4 separate regions of the Homo sapiens genome follow, and all the other regions are linked to region 1. Evidence: fine-mapped expression QTL. A gene starts in region 1. Each other region holds a variant in brackets. All regions are shown on one strand. Distances are from middle to middle.

What was found. PIP is the estimated chance that this variant, and not a neighbour inherited with it, causes the effect.
Region 2: its variant is the best candidate, but not a certain one, in a credible set for the expression of NINJ1 in whole blood (INTERVAL, PIP 0.81).
Region 3: its variant is the best candidate, but not a certain one, in a credible set for the expression of NINJ1 in whole blood (INTERVAL, PIP 0.70).
Region 4: its variant is the best candidate, but not a certain one, in a credible set for the expression of NINJ1 in whole blood (INTERVAL, PIP 0.84).

What each region holds. Positions count from the first base shown.
Region 1 is chr9:93,132,198-93,137,340 of GRCh38, forward strand. It overlaps NINJ1 (ninjurin 1), which reads right to left and starts at 2,054. Exons shown (of 4, transcript NM_004148.4): 1 at 1,946-2,054. The coding sequence starts at 2,020. It overlaps LOC124902212 (a long non-coding RNA gene), which reads left to right and starts at 815. Exons shown (of 3, transcript XR_007061665.1): 1 at 815-1,396. RefSeq lists enhancers at 1,259-1,308, 2,768-3,364 and silencers at 1,599-1,848, 2,019-2,248, 2,749-2,798.
Region 2 is chr9:93,079,107-93,084,249 of GRCh38, forward strand. SUSD3 (sushi domain containing 3) reads left to right here. Exons shown (of 5, transcript NM_145006.4): 4 at 365-496. Among named protein-coding and RNA genes, the nearest start is that of CARD19, 15 kb to the right of the region's middle. RefSeq lists an enhancer at 3,421-4,049. The variant C/A (reference allele first, on the strand shown) is at 2,063.
Region 3 is chr9:93,151,987-93,157,129 of GRCh38, forward strand. No RefSeq gene overlaps it. Among named protein-coding and RNA genes, the nearest start is that of NINJ1, 20 kb to the left of the region's middle. RefSeq lists enhancers at 4,828-4,877, 4,918-4,977. The variant G/T (reference allele first, on the strand shown) is at 2,984.
Region 4 is chr9:93,232,003-93,237,145 of GRCh38, forward strand. It overlaps WNK2 (WNK lysine deficient protein kinase 2), which reads left to right. Exons shown (of 30, transcript NM_006648.4): 5 at 2,806-2,963. Among named protein-coding and RNA genes, the nearest start is that of WNK2, 50 kb to the left of the region's middle. The variant G/A (reference allele first, on the strand shown) is at 2,289.

The sequences.
Region 1 (5,143 bases):
AGAGGAACAGGTGTGTTGGGTGGTCCTGGGCCCCCAGGCTGGGTGAGCAGAGCGGCCCTCGAAGTTTTCTACCCCTCAAGGGGAAATGTGCTCATCCTCACACTGGCTCATAGCCTTTCCACAGCTCCCTGGACACCAGACCGTGATCAGGCCTGCAAGGCCCCTCCCATCGGCCTGGCTTCCCATCCCCCCACCTCCTACCTGGCCCTCATGTGCTCTGTGGTCCAGCCTCTGAGCCTTTGCTCCCACTGTTCCCTCTGCCTAGATGCCCTTCCACACATCTCAGAGAGCCAGATCTGCTCACCCACCTTCCCTGCCCTCCAGGGCTCAGAGCCAATGTCCCCACCTCCACAGAAAGCCTTCCCTGACCACCATGCCCCGCCCCCCACGATGGGCTCCCAGCCCCCAGGGAACCCCCTGCTTTGCCCTGGCCTCTCCTGCCCTGTCTGGGCTGGGCTGCTCTCCAACCGCGGCTTGGTGGGGCGGGGCTGTGTCTCTCTCCCTCTGGTGCCCAGAGCCAAGACAGTGATCCGGGAACAAATCCAACCCAATCTCCTCTGGGCTTGAGATGCACCCATCTCAGGAGGCACAGCCTATCCTGCCGCCCGCAGAAGTGAGCAGAGACTGCTCTGAGTGGAGGGCATTGCCCGGGCAAGGTCAGGGTTGGGGGAGGAGCAGTATCCCTTCCTTTCCAAGGCGCTTCCAAGCCACTGACCTGTTTATTACCTGACTTGCTTTCCCCACTTCCCTGAAGGCAGGAGAGACCCTTTGTTCTCTCTTTATAAGACCATGTCTAAAAGGCCCAGCGAGGTGTGGCAACTTCCCAAGGACACACAGCCGGAGGAGCCCCCTGCCTATTGCTCCAAAGTGCTCACACACTGGGGCAGGGCCAGGTCGCTGGGGTCCCGCACACCGGTCAAGTCCTGCAGTGCGACAGCTCCTCTCTAACCTAGGAACAAGTGTCCATGCAGCCCCAGGGCCATCCTATCCCGTGGCTCATGGGGCCCCGCCTCCCCGAACATGTCCTGTCCCCACAGCACCGGCCTAGGACTGTTCACCAGCGAGTGGGCAGAGTGTCTTTGCCCCAGTCTGGTCCACGCCATGGAGAGGCCTGGAAAAACCCAACAGGCTGCTGTTCCCTGCCCCCATCCCTGAGGGGGTTAGAAAAGGAAAGAATGTTCAAAGTAAACAAGTCACCAGAGGGCCATGCCAGGACCTTGCAACAAACACAAGGTGCTCAGTAAGTGCTGAGTCCTGGGATGAAGAATTCTGAAGCGGGACCACTACCAGGGCCTGCCCCCTGCCCACAGCCCTCCCAGGCCGGGCAGGGCAAGTTCTGGAGGGCCGGTGGCGGCATACACTGAAGGCTGTGTGACGTTTCTATTTCTCAAGGCAGGTGAGTGGAATAGGGACCACAGCGGGCCCCAAGTTCCCCCATCAAGGCACGCATCAGATTGTGTGGTCAGCGTGGGGTGACGTAACTGTCTGCATGCAGCTGGTCTGGAGCCCGGAGGCTGTGACTCCCCTCCGCCCGCCTCCGGGCAAAGTGCGCGGAGGAGCCGGCACGGCGAGGCTGAAGTTAGAGAGGCCCGCGCGAGAGTGGGGGGGAGGTCGGGAAAGCCGGGCGCCGGCAGTCCTTAGCCCGAGGAGCTGCGCCGAGGCCCCCTCCGCCGTGCAGCCAAGCGCGGGCGCTGCTTAGTGGGGCTGGGGACGCCAGCCCGCCCTGCGCCCCCACGCCCCCTCGTCCCGCCCACTTGCCGGGGGTGGCTGGAGCTCCCGGGGGCATCGTTCTGACCCTGATGGGGCGGGAAGGACTTGGCCTAGAGCGGGACGTCCCCCAACACTCTGCAGTGCGGACGCGGCGCACACAGGTGCCCGGGGAGCCGCGGCGCCCCGAAAGGACAGGGCCTGGCAAGATCATGCAGCGGTGGGGGGAAGGTCTTACCGAGGCGTCCGGGGAGCCGGGTGTGCCCGGAGGCAGGCCGCCGTTGAGCTCGTACTCCTCGGTTCCCGAGTCCATGGTGCGGCCGCCCAGGCCGCCAGGATCCGGGCCTGAGCGCGCCCGAGCCTCAGCCGCAGGCTCCAGCTGCGCGCCCGCCCCCGGCCCGCCCCCGGCCCGCCCGGCGGCGAGCTGCTGCCCCAGACTCCGCCTCCACCCGGGGCGGGCCCGGGGCCTGGAGGCTGTACGCTGAGAGCGCGCAGTTTGGGGCGACCCCAACCCCTCGGGCCTGAGACGGTCCCGCGGGGCCCCACAAGGGAGGGGGCGCGACGCCGATGGCCCCAGAGGACCCTGCGCTGCGTCTTGCTCTGAACCTCCGTCGCGGACACTTTTAATCCACAAAATGAGGCCAAGAACGACCTTTCCCTGGCCACCAGGCAAACTGCATGAAAGCGAGCGGGCGTTGCCGCTGGCGCCCACGCTGGGTTTTTCCCAGGCGGGGTTCGCCCTGGGAACCGCAGATCGCTCCAGCACAGCGCCTGCTGCGCCCCTAGTAACAGCGTCAGAGAGTCCGGGGTTCCCCTGATTGCGGGCCACGCTGACACAGGGCTTCCCACTCCCTGACCTTAGGTTTTCCTGCCTGGGAAATGGGGGTTATGAGGGCACAGACTGCTGGAGGGGCTGGGGGAGGCACAAAGGGGATGAACGTGCGCTGACTCATGGGCCCATCTGTGCCACCTGTGGCAGGGGGTGGGCTGGGGGCAGCACAGTGCCCAGAGCCCTGGCCAGATGCTAGGCGGGCCCCCACCTGTTGTATGATTGAAGTGGTTGTTTGGTCTCTGTTTCTCCATATGTTCATTCCTCAGCACTTTGCCCATCTGGGGGCCTGGGGGTCGAGAGCATGTGGCGGCCACCCTGGGAGGCCAGGGGAGTTCATCCTGACCACAGCATAGTCAGCTTGCGGCAGTATGGCCACTCTATTTCCAGAAGGGCAGTGGAAGGAAGGCCAGCTCAGACCCCAGGCTCTGTCCAGTCAGGCTGCCACCGGGACAGGAGGTAGGAGTGAGTGGGCATGGGCAGGGCAGCAGGATTGCGCTTGCCCTGATCCTCCAAACGGGGTCATCCCATGAAGGAGGAGCTGTCGTGGGCCCACTTCACAGCAGAGAAACTGAGGCTCAGGCTGTCACTGCCCCAGCTCTGCCTCAGAGGGGATCTGCAGGACAGGGTCTGGCACGGTGGCCCACGACGGGGATGGTTGCTGTTGTCCTCGCATAATCAGGGCACTGTTGGCACACCTGAGTGTTCACCAGCAGCTGGAAATCCAGCACCATTCACACAAAAAACTCTCTCACAGTATGGGACAAATCCCTATTCTGGGGGATAGTGCCTGCCCACGAGGGCTCAATTCCTGGAGGGGCAGGAGGTGTGGGACCACAGAGAAAATACGTCACACCCAGAAAGGGCCCTGGGAGCTGCAGGGGAGCCCTGAGACCTTGGAAGGCCAAGGGCGTGTAGAGAGGCCCCGAAGTAGGAGGGCTTGGCAGGTGGAGACCCCGTCCTGAGAGTATTCTTTCCTTTGTGCCATGTGGGAGCTCCTGCAGTGTGGTTCATCATTCCCATCCTTTTTTTTTTTTTTTTTTGAGATGGAGTCTTGCTCTGTCGCCCATGCTAGAGTGTAGTGGTGCGATCTTGGCTCACTGCAAGCTCCACCTCCCGGGTTCACACCGTTCTCCTGCCTCAGCCTCCTGAGTAGCTGGGACTACAGGTGTGCGCCACCACGCCCGGCTAATTTTTGTATTTTTGGTAGAGACAGAATTTCACCATGTTGGCCAGATCACCTCCTGACCTCAGGTGATCTGCCCGCCTCAGCCTCCTAAAGTGCTAGGATTACAGGCATGAGCCACTGCGCCTGGCCCCATTCCCACCTTCTAAGAGGAAGCCGGGAGGGTCGCAGCACCAGTGACAGTTGGGACATCAGCCTCGGGGTTTGTAAACCTGCTCTGTGCTGGCCGTCTGAGACCCTCTCCCAGCCTCAGTTTCCTCAGCTCCTGGGGCTGCTGGCAGGACGTGTGGGTGTCAGGGCTCAGGCAGGCTGCAGCGCTGGAGTTCCCTCGTCTGCTCCGTCATCCTCATTTGAGTATGTAGTGTCTGTTTTCCCCACTGTGCTCAATGCTGTTTACCCAACTGTTCTCTGCTGGATCCAACCCAGGACAAGTCTTAAAGGCACAGTGTACCCCGTGTCACCTCCATCTACCTTTTTTTTTTCTTTTTTTTGAGATGGAGTCTCGTTCTATTGCTCAGGCTGGAGTGCAGTGGCGCGATTTTGGCTCACTGCAAGCTCCGCCTCCCAGGTTCAAGCGATTCTCCTGCCTCAGGCTCTCGAGTAGCTGGGACTACAGGCGCCCGCCACCACGCCTGGCTAATTTTTTGTATTTTTAGTAGAGACGGGGTTTCACCATGTTAGCCAGGATGGTCTCGATCTCCTGACCTTGTGATCTGCCTACCTCAGCCTCCCAAAGTGAAAGGATTACAGGCGTGAGCCACTGCACCGGGCCCAACCACCTACTTTCAAGTTCTCCTGGAGACCATGAGTGCATGAGCTGTCCAAGACCAGTTTCTAGACGCTGACCCTGAGCTGAGGGACATGTCCCCAGGAGAGACACAGAGGAGGGGTGTGGCTGGGAGGAACGGGCTGGCAGATGCCCCAGCAGAGCAGCCCTATGTGTGGGTGGGTGTGCACACACAAACACTGTATATGTACGAGGGCCCCAGGCCTCTGTGGAGGAGCCCACAGGGTATCTCAGGATGCCTCTCTGGTGCCCAGGGAGGCTTGGTGCATCCCTCTCCCCCATCAAAGACTCTAGTGGATTCTTCTGGGGCTGGCGTTGTGTTGAGTTCAGATCTGCCCCTTCTGGCTTGGGATGTGCTTCCTCATATGTAAAGTGGGTATAAGGCAAGATGGCATGTGAGGACCATGGAGGTGTCACCCCAGCGTGCTCCTCACAGTGCCACCTCAAGCAGGTGGCTCCATCCCGCTGACCAAGAATGAGACCCCAGTGGGGCAGAGAACAGGCACACCGGAGGCTTGGACCTTCTACTCACCCACTGTCCTAGGAGCTGGGACTAAGCACGGTCTAAGCGACCCCCACCGCGTACTATGGGGAGTACAGTTGTGTCTCTCAGACCTGGGGGAACATGCGGTGA
Region 2 (5,143 bases), 53 kb before region 1:
TTAACCTTTTTAACGTCTACAGTTCAGTAGCATTAAGTATGTTCACGATGTAGTGCAGCCATTAGCACTGTCCAGCCCTAGAACTTTCCACCACCTGTATTTGTAAGTAAAGTTTTATTGGAACACAGCCATGTTCATTGTCTACTGGTGTGTGGCTACTTTTGGGCTGCAATTGCAGAGTTTAGCTGTGGGAGAAATCATGTGTCTCACCACACCAAAAACATCCACTGCCCAGCTCTTTGAGAGGTTTGCCAGCCTGCACTGGTCCTGCAGACGGTGCCCTGGGCCTACATGGAGCCTGTTTCCACCACCGTCAGGGATACACCTGCATGCTCAGAGTCCTTCCTCCCAAACTCTCCTCCAGGTCAGCCCAGCTGTGGTCCCAGCTGAAAGATGAGGACTTGGAGACGGTGCAGGCCGCATACCTTGGCCTCAAGCACTTCAACAAACCCGTGAGCGGGCCCAGCCAGGCGCACGACAACCACAGCTTCACCACGTGAGCCCGGGTCTGGGTAGGGGACATGCTGGGGGACAAGGGGTCCAGCTTGGTCAGGCCCCGGGCCACCTGCTGCTCCCACACGCTGAGAGCCTGCTGCTCCCACACGCCTAGCCCACCCAGAACCTTAACTCCCATCTCTAAAACAAGAGGCTGGTGGTCCTTGTAGCACTCTGTCCTGACTCTGACATTCTAGGACTCAGAACTGCCCCCAGCAGTGTTTTCATCTGGAGGGTCCACCCTCCAGGGAAGCTGAAGCTTCTACACACCTGTGTTCCCTCCACCTACACCCAGCAGGGCTCTGCACTGAGCTGCAGTCACTTGCTCTCCCTCCCGTGCTCTGTCCCTCTCCTTTCTCTCTCTCTTAATACACACATACATTTTTTTGCCCTGAACCAATATAAGGACATTCTTTTTCTGAGTCCAGAAATTTAATACTGATTGGCCAGGCTTGGTGGCTCACACCTGTAATCCCAGCAGTTTGGGAGGCTGAGGTGGGAGGATCACCTGAGGTCAGGAGTTCGAGGCCAACATGGTGAAATCCCGTCTCTACTAAAAACACAAACATTACCTGGGTGTGGCGGAGTGTGCCTTTAATCCCAGCTACTTGGGAGGCAGAGACAGGAGAATCACTTGAACCCAGGAGGCGGAGCTTGTAGTGAGCCAAGGTTGTGCCACCGCACTCCAGCCTGGGCGACAGAGCGAGACTCCGTCTCAAAAAAAAAAAAAAAAAAAAAACAAAACTAACAGAAATCTAATATTGATTGCACGTGGCCTGTTGAGTGGAGAATGTCCATAATCACACGCAGCACTCAGCCACCAGGTCTCTGGGCTCCTTAAACTGGTATGGGCCTTCAGTTTTTCATGGCATAGTCTTCTGAGGGTTCCAGGCCAGTGGTCGCATGCAGAGGCTCCTGTCTGCGTCTGTCTGGTGTTTCTGTGTGACCAGGCCCGGCTCTGCATTTCTGGTGCAGGGCTACATGTGCAGATCACAGACATGGGCCAGGCTGCCCCCACGGGCCACATGGAATGGGGTCTCTTGGCTGAGGCGAAGCCCCCCAGGTCCCTCCACTGTCAGAGCCTGAGGAAGGGGCTCTGCAAGTGTCCCTCCACTGTCTCAGCGGCCTCTGACTTGTGGTCTCAGCGTGCAAGGCTGATCCTGCCAGATCCGCTCTTGCCTTGGGCATTACAGAATGGTGACTTTGTTAATTCTGTTGCACTTCTGACATTCCTTCTATCAGGGATGAGGATGAGCTGTTTTTTTCTTTCCTTTCTTTTGATTTTGTTTTGTTGTTTTAGCATCACATGAACTCATGAATATTCTTTTCTGAAACTTTTATTTTGGGAAAAGTTCACAAATACACAAAAGTAGAATATTGTCACAGATCTCCTGTCCCTGCCTCCCATTCTCATGGTCACCAGCTAAGCCAGGCAACCTCATTCATGCCCCTTCCCCCACATTATTTTCAAGCACACTTTTTGTGGGCTCCAGTTCTTGGCAGTAGGAGCTCTGCCAAGCCATGGCCTGTGTCCTTCTGATCCATCCCCATCAGTCTGTGAGTGCTT[C/A]CTGCCTTGCACAAGATGTTCCAGGCCCATCTCATGCTTTCTGTGCCCATCTCTGCGGTTGGCCACTGCTCTGGGAGCCCTGTTTCTGTGGGTGGAGAACAGCGCTTAGACACCGGGGTCTGGGCGGGCATCCAGACGACATCATTGAGCTTGTGTTCCCTTCCTTCAGGCCCTCCTGCTGGAGTCTTTCGAGGCTGCAGTGCACTTGGTCCCAGCCCTCATGGCCTCACTGTATGACTAACAGCTCCATGCCTCGGTTTCCTCACCTGTAAAGTGAGGATTGCAGTAGCGCTCACCCTTTCAAGTTGTTGAGGTTACCTGAGTCCGGGTGTGTGCCTCTCTCGCCAGGCCCAGGGTGAGAGCTCATTGAATACTGGCTGTTACTGTCGTTGCCACTCTTACGACCTTATGCAGATGGGGAAACTGAGGCACAGGAGATGGTGGTCTCTGTGGCCCTGGGTTACACACACCGTGCTGGGTCTGGCCAACACCTGCAGGGAAGGAATTCACCTTTCTGTCTCCTTTCCTGACGCTTCAAGTGTGTATTACATCAACAAGGATGTAGCCGAAATGCTGCCATTGATACTTCTGCACTTAGCAACACGTTCCAGGTCACCATGGTGGTCTGAGGCCTCCAGGCTATCATTCCTTACAGCAGCCCATTATTCCAAAGCTTCCAATATCTGCTAGACCCTCCCCTGTTGAGTGGTCAGGCGTGGTCAGTGTCTTTTTGCTTAGTGCTGTTTTTCTTTTTCAAGACCACAACTCTTGGGGCTGATCCTAGGAATCGATTGTTTAGGCCCAACAGTCTGAATATTTTATGACCACATTCTTTCCCTGGGAGCTCTGGTACAAGTGAATGTGGCCATATTTTTCTGGTAACTGCATCATCACTGAGTGCTGACCATTTGTTTATCATTTGTTTCTTACAGTAGCTACAAGTTGTGTGGGTAGTTTCCGTCAGCATTTCTTTGATGAATGTCGAGGAAGAATGTTTTCTCCAGCCTTGGCTCACCAGTGCCATTGCTGGCATGAGTCATTTTCTGTTTTCTCTGCTGAATTACCTCCAAATGTTTTGCTCCATGTGTTGTGGGAGGGCACCTGACCCATCAATTGGCTGTACATTTTTTAGGCCTCTTTCCTTTTTTTTTTTTTTTTTTTTTTTTTGAGGCGGAGTCTTGCTCTGTCGTCCAGGCTGGAGTTCAGTGGCGCGATCTCGGCTCACTGCAAGCTCCGCCTCCCGGGTTCACACCATTCTCCTGCCTCAGCCTCCCAAGTAGCTGGGACCACAGGTGTCCGCCACCATGCCCAGCTAATTTTTTGTATTTTTAGTAGAGACAGGGTTTCACTGTGTTAGCCAGGATGGTCTCGATCTCCTCACCTCGTGATCTGCCCACCTCGGCCTCCCAAAGTGCTGGGATTACAGGCGTGAGCCACCGTGCCTGACCCCCTTTCCTTTTTATTTTAGTTTTGTTGGGGCCATGGTGGCTAATGCCTTTCCTTTTGGGTAGTGAGATATCCAAAGCCACTTTCAGAGCTCCTCCATTGCCCCACCTGTGATCCCCACTCCCCATTACAGCACTGGGACCAGATCATCCTGTGTCATAACTGGGAAAGTGCCCATGGAATGGGGGAAGGAACAATTGCCTCTCAAGGCAACATGGTGTCCAGGATGATGGCAGCCACAGCTGCTGCCGCTGCCGCAGGGGCTTTGCTGGCCAGAGCATGATGCCGAGGGGCTCCCAGGGGTGCTGTTTGGGGCCACACTTCTGCCTGGTCCCAGCGCCACAGACCCTGCCTCTTACACTGCGGGAACTTGTGCAGTGTGTGGTCGGACGTGTGCGTCCCGTCCAAGAGTGGCCACAGATCTGTGTACAGGGCTGTGTTCACCCCCTCTGGGGAGTGAGAGAGCCAGGGCGGGAGGGAGGCACCCTGACAGGGCCGTGAGAGGCTGGAGGAGGCCGGCTTAGGGGCCACTCTGACAGTCAGCTCAAGAGGCAGGAAGTGGTGGTGAGGCTGAGGGGGATTGGGAGGGGGACCCTTAGGGCAGAGCCCCTTCCCGGAGCTCTCTCACACATGGAGACCTCGAGCACTCAGCCCAGCTTCATGGGGACTCAGAGAAGGCGGGTCCTGCCCAGGGCTACAAAGCCGATGGAGGCAGAGTTCCCTGAGTCCCCAGCCCTGGGCCCCGGGCTCCCAGGCAGGATCCTCGGGATATGCCTGTGCTGGGGCTGCCCACCCCTCAGGCAGGGCCCAGGCTGCCTCCATAGGTGGTAAATTGCCTTTAGCAAGGTGAGGTTTGCCTCTTGACCTTGTTTTTATTTCATAAGTACTTCTCAGCACTTGCAATGTGCCAGGCACTGTTCTGAACTCTTCCAAATATTAACTCTTTTCACCTAGGGGTGGGTACTACTTTTATCCCGTTTTCCAGGTGAAGAACTAGGCAGGTTAAGAAACTTGTGTAGACTCCCACACAACCAGTAAGTGAGGCTGGGTGGAGTCAGTCTGGCTCCTGCCTCCCCGAAGCTGCCTTTCGTCTCCACCAGTTATTGATGCTTTCACTTACTCATTGCATAAGCAGATCATTTCTTAATTCCTACTACTTACTAGAGTTTTTCTGAGAATTAGTTGTGGGTGGGAGCCGTGATCCAGGAAGGCTTCCTGGAAGAGGTGATGCCGGAAGTGAAAGGACTAAGAGAGCCTGCTTTGGGAGGGGAGAGAGACAGCCTCTGAGGGGAGGAGAGGACATGCAAAGGGCTGGAGGTGGGAGCCGCCAGGCAGCCCACATGGAGCAGAGGCCAGTGTGTGTGTGGAGGCTGGAGATGGGACAGGGCCAGGGTCTGGTCAGCCTGGGGAATGGCTTGGTTTGTATCTGGGGGAGTAGAGAGCCACAAGAGTACTGAGGGTGGAGCAGGTGGGTGATCCAGCTCCTGGCTACCAAAGAGGCAGGCCTGGCAGGAGGGAAGATGTCCTCCCCTTGACCTCCTGCTCCCCAGCATCCCTTCTCTGCCTGGGACATCCCAGGCCCTGGCCAGACAGCTGGGTTCCTGGTGGTTTCTGCACACTCTGAATGAGCCCCAG
Region 3 (5,143 bases), 20 kb after region 1:
TACGGAGGTAGGTGAAATGCTTGTACTTCATCTCCAGGTCAGGTGAGAGTGAATGTTTTAAAGGCAGCATCACAACTTATCACCAAATGTGTGTCCTCCCTCTGGTGTCCAGCCTGACCTTGGGAGATGGTGGCCAGAGAATTCATCCTTGGGCACGCTGCCAGAGTTGGGCCTCATCTCTGGGATGCTGTTGGCCTTCTCCTCAGGGTTGCTGCCTCCTGGTCACAATAGGGCTGCTTGAGGTCCAGACAGCATGTCTGTGTGAAGTCCAGGGAGAAACAGGGAGGAGATCACAAGCCACATGGGCCCCCTTTTCTCTTAAAAGCAAAGGCCCTAAATTTCCCCGGTAGACTGCACCTTAAGTTTCAGGGCCACCCTTATCTTTGAGGAAGGCTGGGAAATACGGAACTGAATTGGCCACATCTTGACCTGTCACCTGGACTGAATATGCTGTCCCCTGGGGCAGAGAATGGATATATCCAGTATCCATTCTTTCATTCTTTTTTTTCTTTTTGAGATGGAGTTTTGCTCTTGTTGCCCAGGCTGGAGTGCAATAGCACGATCTCAGCTCACCGCAACCTCTGCATCCCAGGTTCAAGCGATTCTCCTGCCTCAGCCTCCTGAGTAGCTGGGATTACAGGCGCCCACCATGACGCCTAGCTAATTTTTGTATTTTTAGTAAAGACTGTATTTTTAGTAGTTTCACCATGTTGGCCAGGCTGGTCTCGAACTCCTGACTGCAGGTAGCAGTGCTACCTGAAGTCCTACCCAGAGTGCTGGGATTACAGGCATGAGCCACCTTGCCCCACCACAAAATGTTTTTGAGGCTCATCCATATTGCTACCTGGATCAGCAATTCTGAAGTCCTTCTCCCTGCTAACCAGCACGCCACTGTTGGGATGCACCCCAGTGTGTTTATCCATGTACCTGGGGAATAGACGTTTGGGTTGTTCAGCTTTAGTTGTTACAAATAAATCTATTCCTTAAGACACTGGTGTGTAAGTACTTGTTTACTCAAACAAGTACTTCTCCTGAGTAAACAGAATTAAATTTCCACATTATATAGTAAATGTATGTTTAGTTTTATAAGAAACTGACAGACCATTTTCCAGAGTGGCTGTGTGTTCCATTTGCTCCGTGTCCTAACACTTGATATTTTCCGGGTTTTGAGATTTTAGCCATTATAATGTGTTTGAAGTAGTAACTCACTGAGGTTTTAGTTATCCGTTCCCTGGTGACTAATGGTATTGCACACAAATTCGTGTTCATTAGCTCTTCATATATTTTCTTTTCTTTTTTTTGAAATGGAGTCTCGCTCTGTTGCCCAGGTTGGAGTGCAGTGGTGCAATCTCGGCTCACTGCAAGCTCCGCCTCCCCAGGTTCACACCATTCTCCTGCCTCAGCCTCCTGAGTAGCTGGGACTACAGGCGCCTGCCACCACGCCCGGCTAACTTTTTGTATTTTTAGTAGAGACGGGGTTTCACCATGTTAGCCAGGATGGTCTCGATCTCCTGACCTCGTGATCCGCCTGCCTCAGCCTCCCAAAGTGCTGGGATTACAGGCATGATTCACTGCGCCCAGCCAGCTCTTCATATATTTTCTTTTGTGAAGGGTCTGTTCAGGTCTTTGGCTCATTTTAAAATTCAGGTCCATCTAAAAAAATTTTTGTTTTAATTAGCTGGGCATGGTGATGCATGTCTGTAGTCCCAGGTACTCAGGAGGCTGAGATGGGAGGATTCCTTGAGCCCAGGAGGTCAAGGCTGCATGCCGTGAGCTGTGATTGTACCTCTGCACTCTAGCCTGGGCAACAGAGAAAGATTGCATCTCTAAAAAATAATAATAAAATCCAGGTTATTCATTTTTTAGCATTGACTTTTAAAAGGAGTTCTTTATATATTATGGATATGTGGTTTTTTTTTTTTTTTGAGATGGAGTCTCACTCTGTCACCCAGGCTGGAGTGCGGTGATCCGATCTCGGCTCACTGTAACCTCTGTCTCCTGGGTTCAAGCGATTCTCCTGCCTCAGCCTCCTGAGTAGCTGGGACTACAGATGTGCACCACCACGCCCGGCTAATTTTTGTATTTTTAGTAGACACGGGTTTCACCATGTTGGCCAGGCTGGTCTCGAACTCCTGACTTCAGGTGATCCACCCCCCTCAGCCTCCCAAAGTGCTGGGATTACAGGCATGAGCCACCGTGCTGGGCCTGGATACATGTTCTTTTTCAGATATAGTTGTAAATATTTTTTCCAGTTCTATGTCTTGTCTATTATTTTCTTAATAGTGTCTTTTGATAAGCAGAAGGTTTAAATTTTTGAAGCCCACCTGGCCAAATTTTACGGTTATTTCTTTTGGCATCCTGTCCAAGAGGTCTCTTTTTTCCCCTAGGGTCACTGCATCAGTTCACTACCTCTGAGCTCCAAGTCACCCTTCAGTTCCTGCTCTGGGATAACATTTCTCCCTCCCAGTGAGTGCAGTGCCAGCCTTTTGGCAATAGAGGGCGCTGGGGGCACTGTAGGAGGAGGAAGGGGCTCTTCTGTGGACTCCCACAGCTGCAGGGCAGGTCCATGGTGTGGGGTGCTGGCCATGTACTCCAAATGCGCGTCCCCTTTCGACCCTGGCTGGTGACTACCTTTCCATCCCCTCTTGATCTGGAATTCCACATGCTCCAGGCCTGCCTACACCCAGACTCGCTGCATACCTGGCCGGCGGGGCCCCAGTTCCACAGTGCCTGCACCCCACCAGCAGCGGCTGCAGACTAGCCCGGGCCAGGCAAACCCGTGGACTTAGCAGCAGACAAAAGCACATCTAGAGGGCCTCAAATACACCTTCTCTGTGGAGGCCTCACTCCTTCCACATGGGCCTTCCTGGTGCCTCGCTCGGCCCTCGAGCACCTGAGTTTTCTTACATCTTCTCAGTGTGTTTCCTATCCCTGATGACACAGCCACAGAGATACTCCTCTATGTCTTCCTCTGGAAGCTTTA[G/T]GTCTGTGATCAATGTGACATGATTTTTCTTTTGCCATCTTAACTATGTTTTTTTTTTTTTTTTTGAGACAGAGTCTCGCTCTGTCGCCCAGGCTGGAGTGCAATGATGTGATCTTGGCTCGCTGCAACCTCTGCCTCCCGGGTTAAAGCGATTCTCCTGTCTGAGTAGCTACTCCTCCTGAGTAGCTGGGTCTACAGGCACGTGCCACCACGCCGAGATAATTTTTGTATTTTTAGTAGAGATGGGGTTTCGCTATGTTGGCCAGGCTGGCCTTGAACTCCTGACCCCAGGTGATCCACCCGCCTTGGCCTCCCAAAGTGCTAGGATTACAGGCATGAGCCACCGCGCCTGGCCTTAACCATGTTAAGTGTATAGTTCAGTAGTGTAAATATATCCAGATTTATGAAACAGACCTCTAGAGCTTTTTCATTATCCCAAACTGAAACTCTGTCCCCATTCAATGCTGACTCCCCATTCCTCCCTCCCCCAGGCCCTAGCAGCCGCCATCCGACTCTCTGTTTCTATGAATGCAACTCCTCTGGGTATCACATATACGTGGAATCATGCAGTATGTGTCCTTTTGTGATCAAGTTATTTCATTTAGCATAGTGGCCTCAAGGTTCATCCGTGTGTAGCATGTGCCAGAATGTCCTTCTTGTTGAGACTGAATAACATTCCATCATATGGAGACACCACATTTTGTTTATCTGCTCATCTGTTGCTGGACACTTGTGTTGCTTCCGTATCCTGGCTCTGTGGATAATGCTGCTGTGAACCTGGGTGTGCAGATAGAAGAAAATGTGTCAGTGAATGCGGCAGGTAGCAATAAGGAGATGACTTCCCAGTGCCTGCTCAGTGCTAACACGGGGCAGTGAGGCTCCGGGAGGTGATGGGGGAAGGGTGTCAATGGAGCCATCCAAAGCCAGCACATGGTGTTTAGGATTTAGAAGACAAGCAAACAAGTGCAGCGTGGCCTGAGGCTGTGCTTTTTCTGCGCTGGTCATGCTGGGACCCAAGAGGCATTGGTACTGTGCTATCCGCCTCCCTGCCTCCCCTCCACACTTTCTCTCACACGCCCCTCCCCTCTTAGTTGACTATAAACCTATTTTCACAAGTGTTCAGTGTGAGAAGGGCTCTTGACTAAGTTAAGGCTCAGGCACTGGGCTCGGAAGCGGCTGAGCGCCCAACCCCGTGTGTGGGACCGCTGCCTGCGCAGAGGGGGCAGCCCAGTGTGGGGCCTCCGCAGAACGTCACTTCAGCCTCTTTGTTCACTGGCATCTGTGGAGCCTTTTCCATTCTGGGCTGCCATCCCTTTGGCACCCAGAGGGCTTTCCTGACACCCAAACAGCAGATGGTCAGGAAATGAAGACTCACACTAACATCAACCAGAGGAAAATCTAATTCAATTGGTAGAATCTGCAGTCAGGGAAGCATGTGGCTGGACACATGTCATCTTCTTAGGGCAATGCCCTCTGCCAGTGGGACAGTAAGTGCTAGAAACCGTGGGTGGTGTGGCCTTCGAAGGCCAATGACCTACAACCAACAGCTGGGCAGGCCGGGGCTGGTGGGAGTTTATGTCCTCCTCTGGGTCAGCTTCTCTCCTAGGCTCACGGGAGTCCCTAGGCTTCAGGCCTGGGTTCCCTTCTCCCTGCTGCAGGTACGGGGTTACTGGGGGATGCTCAGCTGGAGCACCTGCCGTGAGCCAGGCCCTGCGCCAGGGGCTCTATATGCTTTGTCACTCAGGGCTAAGTGTCGCTATGAGTGACACAAACGGCAAAGTACCAGTTGCTTAAACAAGACAGTCATTTCTTTACTACACAAATGATGTCTGGAGGCATGCTGTACATGGCTGCGGTGGCAGCTCCACATTCTCAGACACCCATTTCCTCCCAGCTTCCTGCCCTGGCTTTCTCCACGTGTAGCCTCCACCTCATGACCTAAGATAGCTGCTTGAGTTCCAGTCATCAAGCTTGCATCCCAGCCAGCAGGAAGGAGGAAGGGAGGAAGAAAGGTGCGCTCTGACCCTCCAAGACACTTCTCAGAGCTTTCTGGACACTTTCACTCATGTGTCGTGGCCAGAACTTCACCAAGTGGCCATACCTAGCTACAACGGAAGCTGGGAGATGTAGTTTCTACTCCAGGCAACCATGTTCTCAACT
Region 4 (5,143 bases), 100 kb after region 1:
AGGGCAAGCAGCGTGGGTCGGGGCTCAGGAAGCCCAGATGGCACCCAATCGGATCAGATTGGGAGAGGCTCCCCCATGTTAATGAAGACCCAGCATGCCCCCAATGTGAGGGCAGGACAGTGAGCAGTCGATCTTGGGGCTTTGTGAATTCTTAGTTCTGCTGCATGTTTGGGGACAGAACTTGGCAGGTGTGGGGAAAATGAGACTCCAGAGCTGCTTTGGTTTGGGAAGTCTGTTCAGAATGTGACATCTGGGGCAAGGTGGCTGCCCGGGGGTGGCCCTGTGTACACAAAGCCTCTGGCATTCTGGGGGAGCTGAGTGGTGGAGCGTAGGGGCTGACCCAGGGTTCAGTTTCCCCATCTGTGAAATGGGTATATAGGTGAGGGTCTCCACTCCCTCCTGGAGGGGCTGAGAGCAGGGGCCCAGGACCGTGGAGAGCCCATGCCCAGGGCTTTGAGCTCTGTGCACTTTCTGGGCAGATTTTGCAAATTTGGCTTCAGAAGTGGTAGGAACCCAGGTCTCAAACCCCGGGCGCAGTCAGGTGGCAGGAGGGAGGCTTGTGATCTCCTACTCAGGAGTGAACACTCCTGGAGGAAGAAGCACAGCCCACTGTGAAGCGGCAGCCCCGGCAGAGCCCCTCGTCTTCCTCTGGCTGGGCGGCTCTTTGCCCTCTTGGAAACGAAGTTTCGAGTTGCTGGATCAGGTTGAGATGAAGGCCAGGTGTTTCCAGCAGGCACAGTGGGGAGACCTTGTGACCCGCATGGTTGCCCAGCTCTGTGGGCTGTCCCTCGTCAACCCAGCTTTTGCTCAGCTGGAGTCCAGGAAGCTTTGGTTAGAGAGGCCACAACCAGGAGTGTCCTCAGCTGCTCAGTCTCCTAGAGAATGAGGCTGAAGCAGGAGAATTGCTTAAGCTCAGGGGTTCGAGGCTAGTCTAGGCAATGTAGTGAGATCCCTGTCTCTACAAAAAAAAAAAAAAAAAAAAAGGCGGGGGAAGGAAGGAAAGAGAGAGAAATAAAGAAAGAAAGAAAAGAAAGAGAAAGAAAAAGAAATTGGCCCGGCATGGTGAACACCTGTAGTCCCAGCTACTTGGGAGGCTGAGGTGGGAGGATTGCTTGAGACTGGGAGGTCGAGGTTGCAGTGAGCTGTGTTCATGCCACTGCACTCGAGCCTGGGCGACAGGGCACGATCCAGTCTCAAAAAAAAAAAAAAAAAAAATTGCTAGTGCAGCAAATTTTCAGTATAATCATGTGGTTAAAAAACCCAAAAGAATAAAAGTTCCCGGCGTCAGGCCCCTCCACTCAGCTCCTGTTGTTTCTCATGGGTTCTTCCAGAGTTCTGTGTGCCTAAGACTGAAATCTAAACCATATTCTTGTCCCAATTTTTATCCAAAATGTTAACTTTAAAAAAGAGTGGCCAGGCACAGTGACTCACACCTCTAATCCCAGTACTTTGGGAGGCTGAGGCGGGCGGATCATTTGAGGTCAGAAGTTCGAGAACAGCCTGACCAACATGGTGAAATCCTGTCTCTACCAAAAATACAAATAAATTAGCCAGGCATGGCGGCAGACGCCTGTAGTCCCAGCTACTTGGGAGGCTGAAGCAGGAGAATTGCTTGAACCTGGGTGGGAGATGGAGGTTGCAGTGAGCCAAGATTGCACCATTGCACTCCAGCCTGGGGGACAGAGTGAGATTCCGTCTCAAAAAAAAAAAAAAAAAAAAGTAACACATTTTAAATTGAAATGACGGGTAAACAAAACGTGCTTTTAAAATGCACTAATTAGTTAGCTTGAGCTTTTAAAAAGAAACTAGAAATTTTGAAGACCTTCCAAAGTCAACAAACATCCAGACGTTAAAAGCAGCTGTACTGAAGTCTCTAGTCCCTTTCTTTGCATTCAGCGCGACAGACATGCAACCGGACTTATTTTATTAAAAAGGCCTTTACAGTTGCTGTATTATGAAAGCTAAAGCTTATTATAGAGAATAGAGAAACCCCAGACCAATATAAGTAAAATAAAAATCAGCCCTCGCCCCCTGCAGACATCATCTTGCCCTGGGGGTTTGGTTTTGCATAGGTGAGGCCAGCCAGCACGTCTAGCCTCATGCTCATTTTGCTCAGCCTATCATAACTTTGCCATGTCCTTAAAAATTCAGTGAAGACACTGTTTTTGCATCTCTTGTGTTTAGGAGCCACATACAGTTCCCATCTTAGCAACTCTGTGGTTCTGTCAGGTGGGTACCATTTTCTACCCCACCCTCATTCAGGGACACTGTCTTCAGTGATGCTGACT[G/A]TTGTACATGCTGCGTGACACTTGTAGGGGTGGGCTGAGTGTACCCAGCCTTTCCCCACTTTGGGACATTTAGGGGTTTTGTGGCTTTAGGTAGCTCCGTAGCAACCCAAGTTCTTTCTGCTCCAGGGTTTCTGAACGTGGCTGCGGCCGAGCCTGTGGCAGGATCATAGTGTCCACAGGCGAGGGCGTACTCAGGGTTTTGCCTCCTTCCAGGCTCGGACCCCGTCCCCTGGGAAGTCATAGTCTCCCAGCTTATGAGCAGGGGATGGCTCTGTCACCTGATTTCTAACCCTGGACTCCTGTGGTTCCAGGTGGAACTTTTGGAACCCTGTCTGTAAAGCACACCTGTGTCCCAAGTGAGGGGCAGGGCTGGCCCTGGGGTCCAGGTGTTCTGAGTGTGCCATGGGATGTGGAGGGGACATGGGGTTCTGGGCAGCCAAAGCTCCCGGGACACTGGCTCCAGCTCTTCCTGGGCCCGTGGCCAGCTGACAGCTGCGTCTGTTGCTTCCGGGCACAGGTACTCCCGAGTTCATGGCGCCCGAGATGTACGAGGAGCACTACGATGAGTCCGTGGACGTCTATGCCTTTGGGATGTGCATGCTGGAGATGGCCACCTCGGAGTACCCCTACTCGGAGTGCCAGAATGCGGCCCAGATCTACCGCAAGGTCACCTGTGTGAGTCCACCTGGCCCCTTGGTTAATTAATAAGGACACAGAGGCCTTGGGCCGTACCCTGGGCTGGGCTCCATGTGGCTCTGTAAAGCCATCCTGGCAGCTGTGTAAGGAGCTTGGCCATTTTGCAGAGGGGGAAACTGAGGAGATTGGCCATTTTACAGAGGGGGAAACTGAGGCTTAGTAGCGGGGTGGTTACTCAAGGTCTCCTACCTGAAGGGATGGTGGTGCATGGGGTGCTGTGGGCAGTGCTTACCCATGGAGGCTGTCGCTCTCACAGCAGGGATGGTGGGGAGACTGAGGCTCAGAGAGGCTGGAGCTTCACCATAGCCCCCTGCCTGGAGGCGTGCCTAGGCCACCCATCCCCAGTGCTCACACTCTGGGCCGCCCATGGCTGCCTGCTTTCCTATCTTCTTCATTTTGAAACAATGGTTTGATTTCTTTTTCAGCTAAACCAGTCACTCCTACACCAAGTGTGTCTCTAGGCAGTCGTCAGCGCCAGGCAGCTGGGAACGTTAATCCCTGTTTTGCTGTCGCTGTGATTTTTTTCTTTAATCGGACGGCTTCAGCTGCATAAACAGATCTGTCTTGTCCTCCCTCTGTGGTGGCCCCACTGGGTGGAGGGAATGCAAACAGAACATCTGGAAATGGAATGGCCAGGCCAAGGCTTTCTGTGCCTGTTTTCTGCACCACCCGTCTTGTTGTGAAGCCCAGGGGCCTGCAGAGCTGTCCCTGACATGCGGCGTCTGCACTGAGGGCCCAGGCTGCCCTGATCCCTGCAGTCCCTGCTGTCTCCACATGCCACCTGACTGGGTGGGGCCGCGCTGCCCCTCAGTGCTGCTCTGCGGGGCCATGGCTGCTTCTGCAGGTGCACCAGGGGCTGTGGTCCTCAGCAGCTGCACAGCCTCACTCTGACCCATCCCTCCATCCCGAGCCCTCCTTGCAGATTACCTGCATTTCTGTCCCTTGGTTGTTGTAAATCATCGGTCACTTGGTTGTTCTGAGCCCCTCCTGTGTGCCCCTGAGGAAGTGGGAGGGCAGACAGAGTCCTTGACTCACCTGTGGGCCTGGGTCAGAAACTTCACAGACAGGTGCACAGTTTTCCGTGGGTACTGGAAGGAGTGTCAGGACCTGCTGGCTGTGTGCAGCGGCCCTCCAGGGAGGCAGGGATGGTCTGCAGCAGGAGGAAGTGGGGCGCTCCAGAGATTAAGAGCTCCATTTGCCAGGCCTTGGGGTGCTGGTGTGGGATGGGAGGGCCCCTGGGTTCACTGTGGAGGGTGGATGGTGGTCTGTCCTGAAGCTGTCCCAGGGGCTGGTGGTGCTCCTCGACCCTGGGGGTGTACACTACTGGGCAGAGCCCTTAGGTTCTTCACTCCTGTGTCTGCCCCAGGCTGGGGGCTCCAGCACCCAGGGCAGGTGGGCGTGCCCCCACCCTCCTCCCTGACCTTGGGAAAATTTATGCTTTATGTTCTCTATATTAAGAGTCAGGTGAAGCTTTTGAAGGCTAAATCGTGTTGAAGGAGAAAGAACGTGATAGTTGGTACCCTCATTGTGTTTAAAATTTTTTAAAATTAGTTGCTCATACACCGTCTTACTCCACTTCCAACACAAAACAACCTAGCAGATTGCAAGCAGCACCTGGCCCCGCCCTGCTGCTTCTGAGTCCGGTTGCAGGGCTTGCCCTCTGCTCCCTTCATGCACAGCCATCAGCTGGGTGAGGAGCCACTGTCCCTCAGGCTGCCACCCGCACCCCCCCGCAACAAAGCCGCATGGCCTGGCCCTTGGCCAGCAGCAGTGACCACAAATAGTGCTCCTGCACCCTCAAGGAGGAGGTGTGGGGAGGAAGCCCAGGTGTGGTTAGAAAGGCCCGGCTCTGTAGGAGGCATCCCATCCACCGCATCATGGCGCTGCCTCTACTAGCCTCCTGGAACAGGGGCCCTCGTGGCCCTACTTGGGAGGCTCGGTGAAGCTCTGATCAACACCTTTCCAGAGACTGACTGCTGCATTTGAGGTGTTAACCCCAGTATCAAATTCTGCAGCTGAGGTGGAGGTGTGCAGTGTGTTGTGGCCGGGGTGATGGTGGCTTTGACAGAAGTAGGGTGACCCAAGAAGGTTCTGAATGGTAGGAGACCAGGCTCCTGGCTTCAAGCAGTGGGGAGGGGAGATTTGGAAGGGAATTGCAG